Linked DNA regions of Homo sapiens. The protein of the gene in region 3 purifies or fractionates together with the protein of the main gene of each other region. This does not show direct contact. Each region holds a gene or a part of one and is shown on either strand. Other genes may lie near its edges.

Evidence for each region.
Region 1: the proteins of UFD1 (region 3) and ARMC1 fractionate together in Homo sapiens (co-fractionation; one large-scale study listed by BioGRID). This does not show direct contact.
Region 2: the proteins of UFD1 (region 3) and SEPTIN11 fractionate together in Homo sapiens (co-fractionation; one large-scale study listed by BioGRID). This does not show direct contact.

The regions. Positions count from the first base shown.
Region 1 is NC_000008.11:65,624,178-65,627,677, reverse strand, and holds part of ARMC1 (armadillo repeat-containing protein 1), read left to right. Parts: intron 1-244; 5' UTR 245-279; coding exon 280-462; intron 463-3,500.
Region 2 is NC_000004.12:77,029,596-77,033,327, reverse strand, and holds part of SEPTIN11 (septin-11), read right to left. Parts: intron 2,546-3,732; coding exon 2,358-2,545; intron 1-2,357. UniProt on the Homo sapiens protein: Filament-forming cytoskeletal GTPase. May play a role in cytokinesis. May play a role in the cytoarchitecture of neurons, including dendritic arborization and dendritic spines, and in GABAergic synaptic connectivity.
Region 3 is NC_000022.11:19,462,066-19,465,797, forward strand, and holds part of UFD1 (ubiquitin recognition factor in ER-associated degradation protein 1), read right to left. Parts: intron 3,210-3,732; coding exon 3,137-3,209; intron 1-3,136. UniProt on the Homo sapiens protein: Essential component of the ubiquitin-dependent proteolytic pathway which degrades ubiquitin fusion proteins.

The DNA.
Region 1 (3,500 bases), on a different chromosome or scaffold from region 3:
AAACATAATTTATTGGAATATTGAGGACAACATATGTTCTTTAAACATTGTGCACACAAATTTTTTCAGTCGTCTTACGTTCATTTTACTTTTCTCAAACTGTAGAGTTGCCGATTTCTAAGTTTTTATGTGATTTAGTTTTAGTTACCTGATTCTTTCTAAAGGTGTTGTAATCCTGGTTATTTCACAAGTGCTATAATATACCTCAGCAGCCTAGAACTAATTCTGCAAACCTTTTCTACAGAATTTAAGATTTTATTCATGTGCATGGCATAGAAGATGAATTCTTCCACTTCCACCATGAGTGAAGAGCCTGACGCTCTATCGGTAGTTAACCAGTTACGGGATCTAGCAGCAGATCCGTTAAACAGAAGAGCCATCGTCCAGGATCAGGGATGTCTGCCTGGCCTTATTTTATTTATGGACCATCCCAACCCTCCAGTCGTCCACTCCGCTTTGCTTGTAAGTTGCCTTTAGTAATTTCAATCTCTGTTCTATTTTTGCAGTTAAGGTGAGAATTTGGAAAAAGTGCTAGATGACAAGGTAAAAAAACGGAAAGAGAGCAATTAGTTGTTTGTATTTATGTAGGTACAAACATATGTATGTGTGGTCTGTGGTCTGTTTACACCAGTGGTAACATGCTACATTGTTTTTATTCTTTATTTTTTTTTTTTTGAGTCATCTAGGCCTGGAGTACACTGTGGCAGGATCTTAGTTCACTGCAATCTCCACCTCCTGGGCTTAAACCATCCCCCCGACCTCAGCCTCCCAAGTAGCTGGGATGATAGGCACACACCACCATGCCAGCCAAATTTTTGATATTTTGTAGAGATAGGGTTTCGCCATGTTGGCCAGGCTCAAACTCCTGAGCTCAAGTGATCCTTCCACTTTGGCCTCCCAAAGTGTTGGAATTACAGCTGTGAGTCACCATGGCCAGCCTTGTTTTTATTCTTTTATACAAATTGTTGCATACTCCATGCATGGAATGTCCTACCACTTCCTTTTCATTTAACAATCTTGAGGATTGGATCATATCATACACAGAGACACTCAAAGAGGCACTTATTTTGTTTTTATTTTATAACAGCTTTTTAAGATGTAAGCACACAGCATCATATAATTCACTCATTTAAAGTATACAATTAAGTGATTTTAGTATATTCACAGAGTTGTGTGTCACCATCACCACAACTTTTTATTTTTATTTATTATAAATAAATTTTTTTTTTTTTTTTTAGTAGAGATAGGATGTAGCTATGTTAACTAGGCTGGTCTCAAACTCCTGGCCTCAAGTGATTCTTCTACCTCGAGCTCTCAAAGTGCTTAGATTACAGATGTGAGCCACTGTGCCCGGCCCACCACAACTTTTTATCTATTGCTTCCCAGACCCCAACACTCCCTGTCCCTAAGCAACTACTAATCTACTTTTTGTATGTCTATATTTGCCTATTCTGGCAAAAATGCCTATATATTTTGCATATAAATAGGGCCAGACGTGGTGGCTCACTCCTGTAATCCTAGCACTTTGGGAGGCCGAGGTGGGTGGATCACCTGAGGTCAGGAGTTTGACACCAGCTTGGCCAACGTAGTGAAACCCTGTCTGTACTAAAAATACAAAACAATTAGCCGGGCGTGGTGGTGGGTGCCTGAAATCCCAGCTACTCAGGAGGCTGAGGCAGGAGAATCCCTTGAACCCAGGAGGCAGAGGTTGCAGTGAGCCAAGATTGTGCCATTGCACTCGAGCCTGGGCAACAAGAGTGAAACTCCGTCTCAAAAAAAAAAAAAAAAAAGTTGTTAAAAAAATTAATGTTTTGGAAATTTTATCTATTGCCCTTTACTTAAGGACTCGTGATGATTCCCCATTTAGTCTAATTTCACAAGTTTGTACAGAAGGCATATAGACTTTTCCTTTTGGAAAAAAATTTCTATTTTGCCTTTACAGAATGAAGTTTAGCAGTCAAAAAAGACATTGGTGTAAGAGAACAGTAGTAACAAATGGGAAAAATGGCACAGTCCCCAGTCTGGGTTCAATTTCAATAAGAAATGCAAGAAGGATGAGAAGAAAGAGGGGGTTGATCTATAGATAGGGACTTGGGGCTAAAGGAAGTAAGTCTTTTTTATTTTTAAATAGACTAGAATATGTCTAAGTTCAGAGGGCAAGGGCTACTAGAATGGGAGAGGTTTGAGGGGAAGGCTCTCATAATTGCAGAAAATAGGAAAGATTTGCTAACTGAGGAGAATGATAAAGTTGTTCAGCAGTGTTGAGGGCTGATTAGTTTGGTAATACTGAATCGATATGATTCAGGCCTGTTGTAGGCTCACAGAGCCAAGTACTTGGATTTGTCTAGAGTTGTTACTTGGCCAGGTTAAGTTGGGCAGAATGATTGTGCAAGGGAGTTTAGGATCTTGGCAGGATTGGTTGAAATGATATACAGTAGATACTAGGCTGAATAGGAAGGGAAGTATAAAGTCATGGAGGGACAGAGCTAAGGAGAGGGATCAGTGAGTGAAAGTTCCCAAGAGGCTGAAGAAAAGATTTTTTTGTTGTTGTTTTTGAGACAGAGTTTTTGCTCTTGCCACCCAGGCTGGAGAGCAATGGCACAATCTTGGCTCACTGCAACCTCCGCCTCCTGGGTTCAAGCGATTCTCCTGCCTCAGCCTTCTGAGTAGCTAGAATTACAGGCCCGCACCATCACATGTGGCTAATTTTTGTATTTTTAGTAGAGACGGTTTTTCACCATGTTGGCCAGGCTAGTCTCGAACTCATGACCTCAGGTGATCTGCCTGTCTTGGCCTCTCAAAGTGCTGAAATTACAGGTGTGAGCCACCATGCCTGGCCATTGGGTGTGTTGTTTTTATGATTTCCTTTTTTCGTCACTGTTAGCTTATTAGTATACACTTTTGTTTTTATTTTAATTTATTTAGTGGTTGCTGTAGGTTTTACAATATGCATCTTTAACTTCTTACAGCCTACCTTTAAATGAATCATACCCTTAACATGTAGTGTAAGAATCACACAAGAGTATATTTCCATTTCTTTCTCCCATCTTTTGTGCTATTTTTGTCATACATTTTACTTCTACATATGTTTAAAAACCTACAGTGTATATATTTTTGCCTTAAACAGTCAATTATCTTTTAAAGAGATTAAAAATTTAAAAATGTCTTTTTTTTTTTTTGAGATGGAGTCTTGCTCTGTCACCTAGGCTGGAGTGCAGTGGCGCAATCTCAGCTCACTGCAACCTCTGCCTCCCGGGTTCAAATGATTCTTCTGCCTCAGCCTCCCTAGCAGCTGAGATTACAGGTGCATGTCAGCATGCCTGGCTAATTTTTGTATTTTTAGTAGAGACAGGGTTTCGCCATGTTGGCCAGGCTGGTCTTGAACTCCTGAGTTCAGGTGATCTGCCCCCCTCAGCTTCCCAAGGTACTGAGATTATAGGCGTGAGCCACCATGCCTAGCAAAAAAAGGTCTTTTATATTTACCTTCATTTTTACATTTC
Region 2 (3,732 bases), on a different chromosome or scaffold from region 3:
GTCAGTTCCTGAATGGCAACTCCCACATCTGTTCCAGCTATGCTAGGAGGCATCTTCCCAGCTCTTTTCAAAGTGCTGCTCTGTCTAGCCTGGCCACTGTCTTTCTGCGGTCCCTCTAACCAAAACACTCCACTACCACTGGCAGTAAGAGGTGTGATTTTTTTTTTTCTTGGACATTTCAGGCCTCCACTGGCAGTTGCTTTCACTGTACAAATGTAAAGTGTGGAAAAGGGTAAGGACCTAGAAAAAGTTATACAAAAAATATGTGCCATTGTCAGGTGCAAAACCTGGCGACTACTCTGAACCAAATTAAGTATAATATCCTTCAAAATAAATGAGAATATATAAATAAGCTAAAATAGAATCCACACAGGCTTCATAGAAACTTTGAAAGCATTACACATTGGTAAGGCCCCAGGATAGGAAGAAAATAACCTAACATGTTCAAAAGGGCAAGGAAAAACCTCCCTACACTGGGAAGTTTGTTACTAAATAAACTTTTCTAAAATGGAAGCACAATAATGATCAGCTCTTGGAATTTTTATTGCTTAAAGGCACGTCTAGTATACACGAAATACTCTTTTAACATTGCTGGTCTTTTGGAAACATTCTTAGTTTTAAAACTTGAACCTTTATGCACTGAGTGCCTCAGGGTGAAAAGAAAAACTTGACTTTGCATTTCCTAAGCTGTAAGTCAGCAGCTTTTTGTCTCATTCATACCTATAGATGTATGTGTACACACACACAAACACACACACACAGACACATACACACCCCTATATCCTTGGTTAGTTTAGCTTGGATTAACAAAGGTACAATGCCCAATGGCTTTCATCTGTCTTCACTGGAAGAGTCACTGTAATCTGAGTCTCTGCATGGGAAACATCACCATTAGTGTTAGATGCTCTCCCGACATGCATAGCTACAAAGGGTTTTCTTAGATTATAATCTATGTGCTTGTTACTCTCAGAATTAATCCAGCATAACTAAATTTTGGGCCTTGAACTCCTTTGGTCACTTGGATCTGTGCCAACTCCAAATAAAATCACAACCATTTCAATTATTGTTCAGAACATTTGCCTCCTCCCTTGCTCTGGTGATACATTTTCTGCTGTCTCAGAGCTCAGAATGTCAGTTTGTAAAGCATGATTTAAAACTCTCTCAGTATGTCATTGTAGCAGTCCATTTTTATTTTTACTGCAGGCAACATGAGATTCCTTAGGGGTGAGCCTACTGCACATTCACCAAGACTAAGTGGACAATAGCACTGTGCTCACTTTTCCCTATAACACATCTCAATTATTGTGCAGAGACTTGATCCTATGTACTCTATGTTTAAAGAATGTAATTCTTTATGTGCTTGAGCATCAATGTTTTTACATATGGTCAGCTTTTTCCCTAGAACCTTGGCATGTAAGGCGAAAGAGCAACACTTCCTGAAACAAGTTCTGAGTTGCTTTATATTAAATAGCTGCCCTAAAGCACCGTACATTAGACAAAGGAGGGTGGCATCTGCATATTTGTCATTGAGACACCACAAAGGTTTTCGTTAGTGGTATTCTTACCATCGTGCTTCCTGTCAAAACCGATAGCATTGACATAAAACTAGGCTTTATGATGATTCAAAGGAGAGCTTCAAATCACAGGAGAATGTCAAGGGAGGCCTAAATCTCCCACTGGTTTCAGGCAGCTGCTACTGGAGTATCACAGGAAGTGACCAACTCAAGAGCAGAATCTGACCCTTTGGCACATGACATTAAGACCCTATTTAAAAAAAACCTTTTATGAATGGGTTTAGGTTTGGCTTGAGGTTGGCAGAGGTGTCAACTGGATAGGCATTTGGATCCCATTTCACAATAAAACAATTCATCATATTGAATTTTGAGGAAACTAGTGGCCACTAGCAGCTCTTCCAAATGTTTCATTTTGGGAACGAGAATTTCAGTGACTGGCTTACGAAGTCTTACAACACAGAATAGGAAAATAATTTTAACAATTGTGATTTTAGGATGCTCTCTATCAAGAGTCATGAGAATTGTCTTCAGAGGGTGCTGAAGAGACATCAACCTGTCTTCTTTGAGACTCCTAGTGTTGGTGTGGAAGATGCTACTGGAGACAACAGGTTCCTCCAGGCCTGATTGCTTGGTCAATTGTGGTAAAGTTTTATAAATTAATCTTTGTGTACCTTTTAAAAAAATTTAAAAACCTTCATCATCTTCCCTGCACTGTAGAGAAAATACTTGCTTTTATCTTTCTGGTAAAGGACCAGTTTCCAGTCTGTAAATGGGAAAAGTAGAGACATGCAAGAGGAATAAATTGTTAGAGGTCCCCGATACAGGGGGGTGACACCTGCTTACTTTTTCTTATCCTTGTCTTTCTTGGTTTGCTGGGCCCCAGATTGCTGGGCCTGGGACTGTAGTAACTGAGCCGCTGCTTTCTTCTTCTGGAAGTTGTTCACCTCCTCCTCAAGCTCCTTCTTCTTGTCTTCCACTTTCTTCTTTTCTTCTTGGTGTGTCCGCTTTAGAAGGTCAAACTTCTCGTGAAGCTGGAGAGAAAAAGAAAACAGGCTTGGTGAATGGAATGAAAATCCTTTTGATGTAAAGTTCTTTGGATCTGTTCAAAAAACAAAACATGGCCAGGCACGGTGGCTCACGCCTGTAATTTCAGCACTTTGGGAGGCCGAGGTGGGTGGATCACGAGGTCAGGAGTTCAAGACCAGCCTGGCCAAGATGGTGAAACCCCATCTCTACTAAAAATACAAAAATTAGCCAGGCGTGGTGGCGGGTGCCTGTAATCCCTGCTACTCAAGAGGCTGAGGCAGAGAATTGCTTGAACCTGGGAGGCGGAGGTTGCAGTGAGCTGAGATCGTACCACTGCACTCCAGCCTGGGTGACAGAGACTCCGTCTCAAAAGAAAATAAAAGAAAACAAACAAATATGTGTCATGTGGCTGCACTGGCTTTAATACAGGTGTAAAGTACCATTTTGCTGACTTCCTGGAGGAGCTGAGCTGGGATGCTGAAGAGCATCCCTCAGAGTCCCAGACTCCTGTGACACTAGAACTCCTTGGGACTAAAAATTCCTTCGCTCTGTTGCCCAGGCTGGAGAGTAGTGACACAATCTCAGCTCACTGCAACCTCTGTCTCCTGGGTTCAAGCAATTCTCCTGCTTCAGCCTCTCGAGTAGCTGGGATTATGGGCATGCGCCACCACACCCAGCTAATTTTTGTATCTTTAGTAGAGACGGGGTTTCACCATTTGCCCAGGCTGGTCTCGAACTCCTGACCTCGTGATCCTCCCACCTTGGCATCCCAAGGTGCTGGGATTACAGGCGTGAACCACTGCACCTGGCCAAAAATAATTATGATCCCAACAAAAAACTCACCCTAGTGGTAAAAGTGGTTCTTTACCTCTGGTCCTTTTTCGAAATGTATAAAAAACATTTACTTAGAAATATATACAATGACTACATATATGTATGTGTTTGTATATATATACACATATATATGTGTATGTATATATGTGTGTATATGTGTGTGTATATATATGTGTGTGTGTGTGTATATATATATATATGCATTATGTATTAGCTACTTAAATAATGTGTTGGGAAATTTCTGGCCCTTGAGGGAAGGAAGGGGAAGAAGAAAAGCAAAGGAAGAAGAAAGAAAATGAAAAAGAAAAGGAAAGGAAGGAATTCTAGACAATTTTAGATTTTTTACCCAGCATCCCCT
Region 3 (3,732 bases):
CACTGTTCACTGCAACTTCTGCCTCCCGGACTCAAGTGATCCTCCCACTTCAGCCTCCCAGGTAGCTGGGACTACAGGTGCATGCCACCATGCCCAGCTAATTTTTGTATTTTTTGTCGAGATGGGGTTTTGCCATGTTGCCCAGTCTGGTCTCAAACTCCTGGACTTAAGTGATCCACCCACCTCAGCCTCCCAAATTGCTGGGATTACAGGTGTGAGCTACCACACCCAGCTTCAGCTATCTTTTTTATTAACTTTATTGAATTGTAAACAGAGAACACTTTAATTCTAAACAACTCTCTCAAGAGAGTAAGTCTAGGCCAGGCGCGGTGGCTCACATCTATAATCCCAGCACTTTGGGAGGCTGAGGCTGATGGCTCACCTGAGGTCAGGAGTTCGAGACCAGCCTGGCCAACATGGTGAAACCTCGTCTCTACTAAAAATACAAAAGTAGCCGCAAGTGGTGGCACATGCCTGTAGTCCCAGCTACTCAGGTGGCTGAGATGAGACAGGAGAATTGCTCGAACCCAGGAGGTGGTAGCTGCAGTGAGCCAAGATCGCGCCACTGCACTCCAGCCAGGGTGAGACAAAGAGAGACTCTCTCAAAAAAAAAGAGAGTAAGTCTAAAGACTTACTCTTTTCCAACATTTTAGATGTCATTTTTTAAGCTTCATACATTAAACATTATTACTGCTTTATATGGCAACATTTACCCTGGATTCATATTTGCCAATTTATTTATTCCCTATTCCTTCTTGCTTTCCTTCTAGGATAATGCTTATTCCTAAAGTACATGCTTTTAAAATTCCATTGGTAAATAACCTCTCTCAGATTTGGTTCATCTGAAAATATTTTCACTTTGCCCTTATTCTTTAAGGAAGGTTTTGATGATAGTTACTTGATACTGGCTGTAACTGTTGCTATTCAAAGACCTGCTACTTGCTGTTCTTCTGAAGGTACTGTGTTTTCTCCCTGCTTACCTCTCTGTATTTGGTATTTTCTACCTGTAGCTTATTCTGTTTGTTATACATTATAAATTTCCTGTCATGATGGGCTGACCACCAATTCTAAATCAATTTCAGTTACCATCTCTTCAGATTATTGCAATTCCTCCATTCTTTCCTACTGGGATTGCAATGGGCATGTTTGACTTTCTCAGTGTCTTCAACATCTCAAGCTCTCATATGTTCCATCCCCTTGCTCCTCTGTGTGAAATTCTGTTATTTCTTCAGATTCATCTTTCATTAACTCTTTTATAGCTGTTGTTTAACATTGTTTTTCAAATCTTTCTGGTTATTTTTGATAGCCTTTTGTTGCTCGCTATTATAATTCCATTTTAAAAAATATCTTTGAACATTTTATATCTAATTATTTTACATTTGTATCTAGAAATTCTAATGCTGATTTCCTTAGGGATCTAATTTTTATTGTCTCTGCTTTGGTGTAGTTTAATTATGTGTTCTTTGCTTGTTCAATTGACAGCAATCCCAAAGACGTAACTAAACTGGAGTGCTTTTTCCAGAGAGGATCTGTTTATTTCTCCTGAGACAATGACAACACCCACCTCTGTGTATATTTTACTGCTTTTAAGGGTTCCCGTTCAATCCTGATCTCTGACTCAGATCTCCCACTAGAGCACTGATATGGCCATCTGCCCTCAGGGCAACCCAGCTTAGAGTGTTTAAAATTCTCTATAAGCACAACAGTACATTAATCAGAAGGGCCCATTAGAGGATCTAGTTTTCCCTACTTCTAAAAGTGGAAGTTCAAACCTGTGTTTCAATTTTACATACACTCTTATATAATGTACCCTCCCTTAGAGTGCAAAGTATCAGTACTATCCTTTATCATCAGTTTAGGAGTTATATGTAGTATTACTACCTTAACATTAAAAACAATAACATTAAACTGCCTGTAATTAATTATAAAAGCTTAGAGTATTCAGTTAAGGTAAACGATACCTAAAATGTTCTCCACAAAGCTAAAGGGAACAAGATTATTTCTTAGTTTATTAAAAGGAAAAAAGAAAGTGTGATTCGAAACCCAAGGAACTGAAAAATAAGGTCAGATGCCTCAAATATGAGGAAACTGCCAGAGAATAAGCTGGATCCCTGCACTGACACCAAGGGAGTAACTGGCTAAACCACAGGCAGCTGTGACACAGCTGTGACGGCCCAGTCCCCGAAGGGACCAGAGAGTGCTGTGAAGGAGCTAAGTGCTAGCTTCAGGGAAAGCCCAGCCAAGCCAGGCTGTGGTCACTCCCGAACACTAAGGCTAGCCCTGGCAACAGCTCTGTGGGAGGGTCAATTGTCAACAGTCACAGTGAACAGGGGCACCCATATTACTGTGCTCCATGCCTGTGGTGGGACAGCCTGATGGCAGGATTGCCAACTATTACATCCTCCTGCAGGCATATTCCCATAGGTAATAGGAAAGTGAATGCTTTCTTGAATTTTGGACTAAGTCCTGTCATTTCACTTTACAGTTAAATTGTCTAGATCCAGACACCTAAACAGCATAAAATCAGGGATGAAAACAGAGGCATTCAGACCTGAGAGACTTGTGTCAGAAAGGTCAAGCCTAGAGAAGCTGCTAAGTGAAAACGGAAGCTGAAGAAAACAGGAGGTGGAGGAGGATGTGGGCTCCCAGGAGGAGAGGTGAGCCTAGGAGGTGTTGCCCTAAGGCAGAGCCAGGCTTTGCTTCTCAGATGCCACACAGCACTTGGCCCCACTGAAGGGCCTGTCAGCTTCTGTGGGGCAGGTATCCCAAGGACAAGGACCCAGCAGGGTTGTTATTGTGTCTCCACAGCCCTGCAAAGGGCTTAGCTCAGATTAGAGGTGCAGTGGGGACCTTTCAAACCAAGACAGAACCAGCAGCCTTGCCACCAAGGTACACAGAGGTATGACTAATAAGTCTATCAATGTTCCCCTGTAAATGCAATCTATCCTCAAAACAGAGTTACCAAATGAATTAGGGCTCTAAATATGAACCCGGGAAAACTTAATAACCAAACAGTAGGCAGTAATTAGGTGATAAGATCCAGGCATACGCTGCTTAAAAAGAAGCCCCATTCAAACATTAGAATGGACACTGCAGGTGGCTCTTGTCAGGAATGACCTGCATGAACTGGGCTCACCTTTTCATTATAGTTGATGGCAATCACATCCCCGGTGGTCAGACAGGCAAAGTTCCTAAGTGCGTTTTCTAATCTGCAGACACATTCTGTCAAGGCAACATGGCAAGATGGATACCTTAATCTGAAACAAGTTTCCATGTTAGATGATTACTGGTAGGTAGAGACTGTACCATGATGGTACTTGAAACACGAAGCTTTTAATACAATAAAGTACTACTTGGCAATAAAGAAGGATGGAACTCCTAATATGCAATAATATGGATGAAATGCCAAGCTGGGGTAACAAATGCCAAGCTGGGGGAAGGGGAAATAACCAACCACAAAAGGGCAGTGAGATTCCATCCACATGGAACCCTGAGAAAGACAGATCTATGAGGATGGGAGGTAGCTGAGAGGTTTCTGGGCCAGGGGATCAGGTGGGGACTGACAGGAAAGGACCTTTTGGGGACATGGAAATGTTCTGATTACATGGGTGTATACATTTTCAAACTGGCTGAACTGTGTGCATTTTATTGTATACAAATTATACCATGGGATTTTAAAAAATCCTGTGGGAGTACTAAAGAACAAAAAAGATTTAATGAGTCAGATAGGTC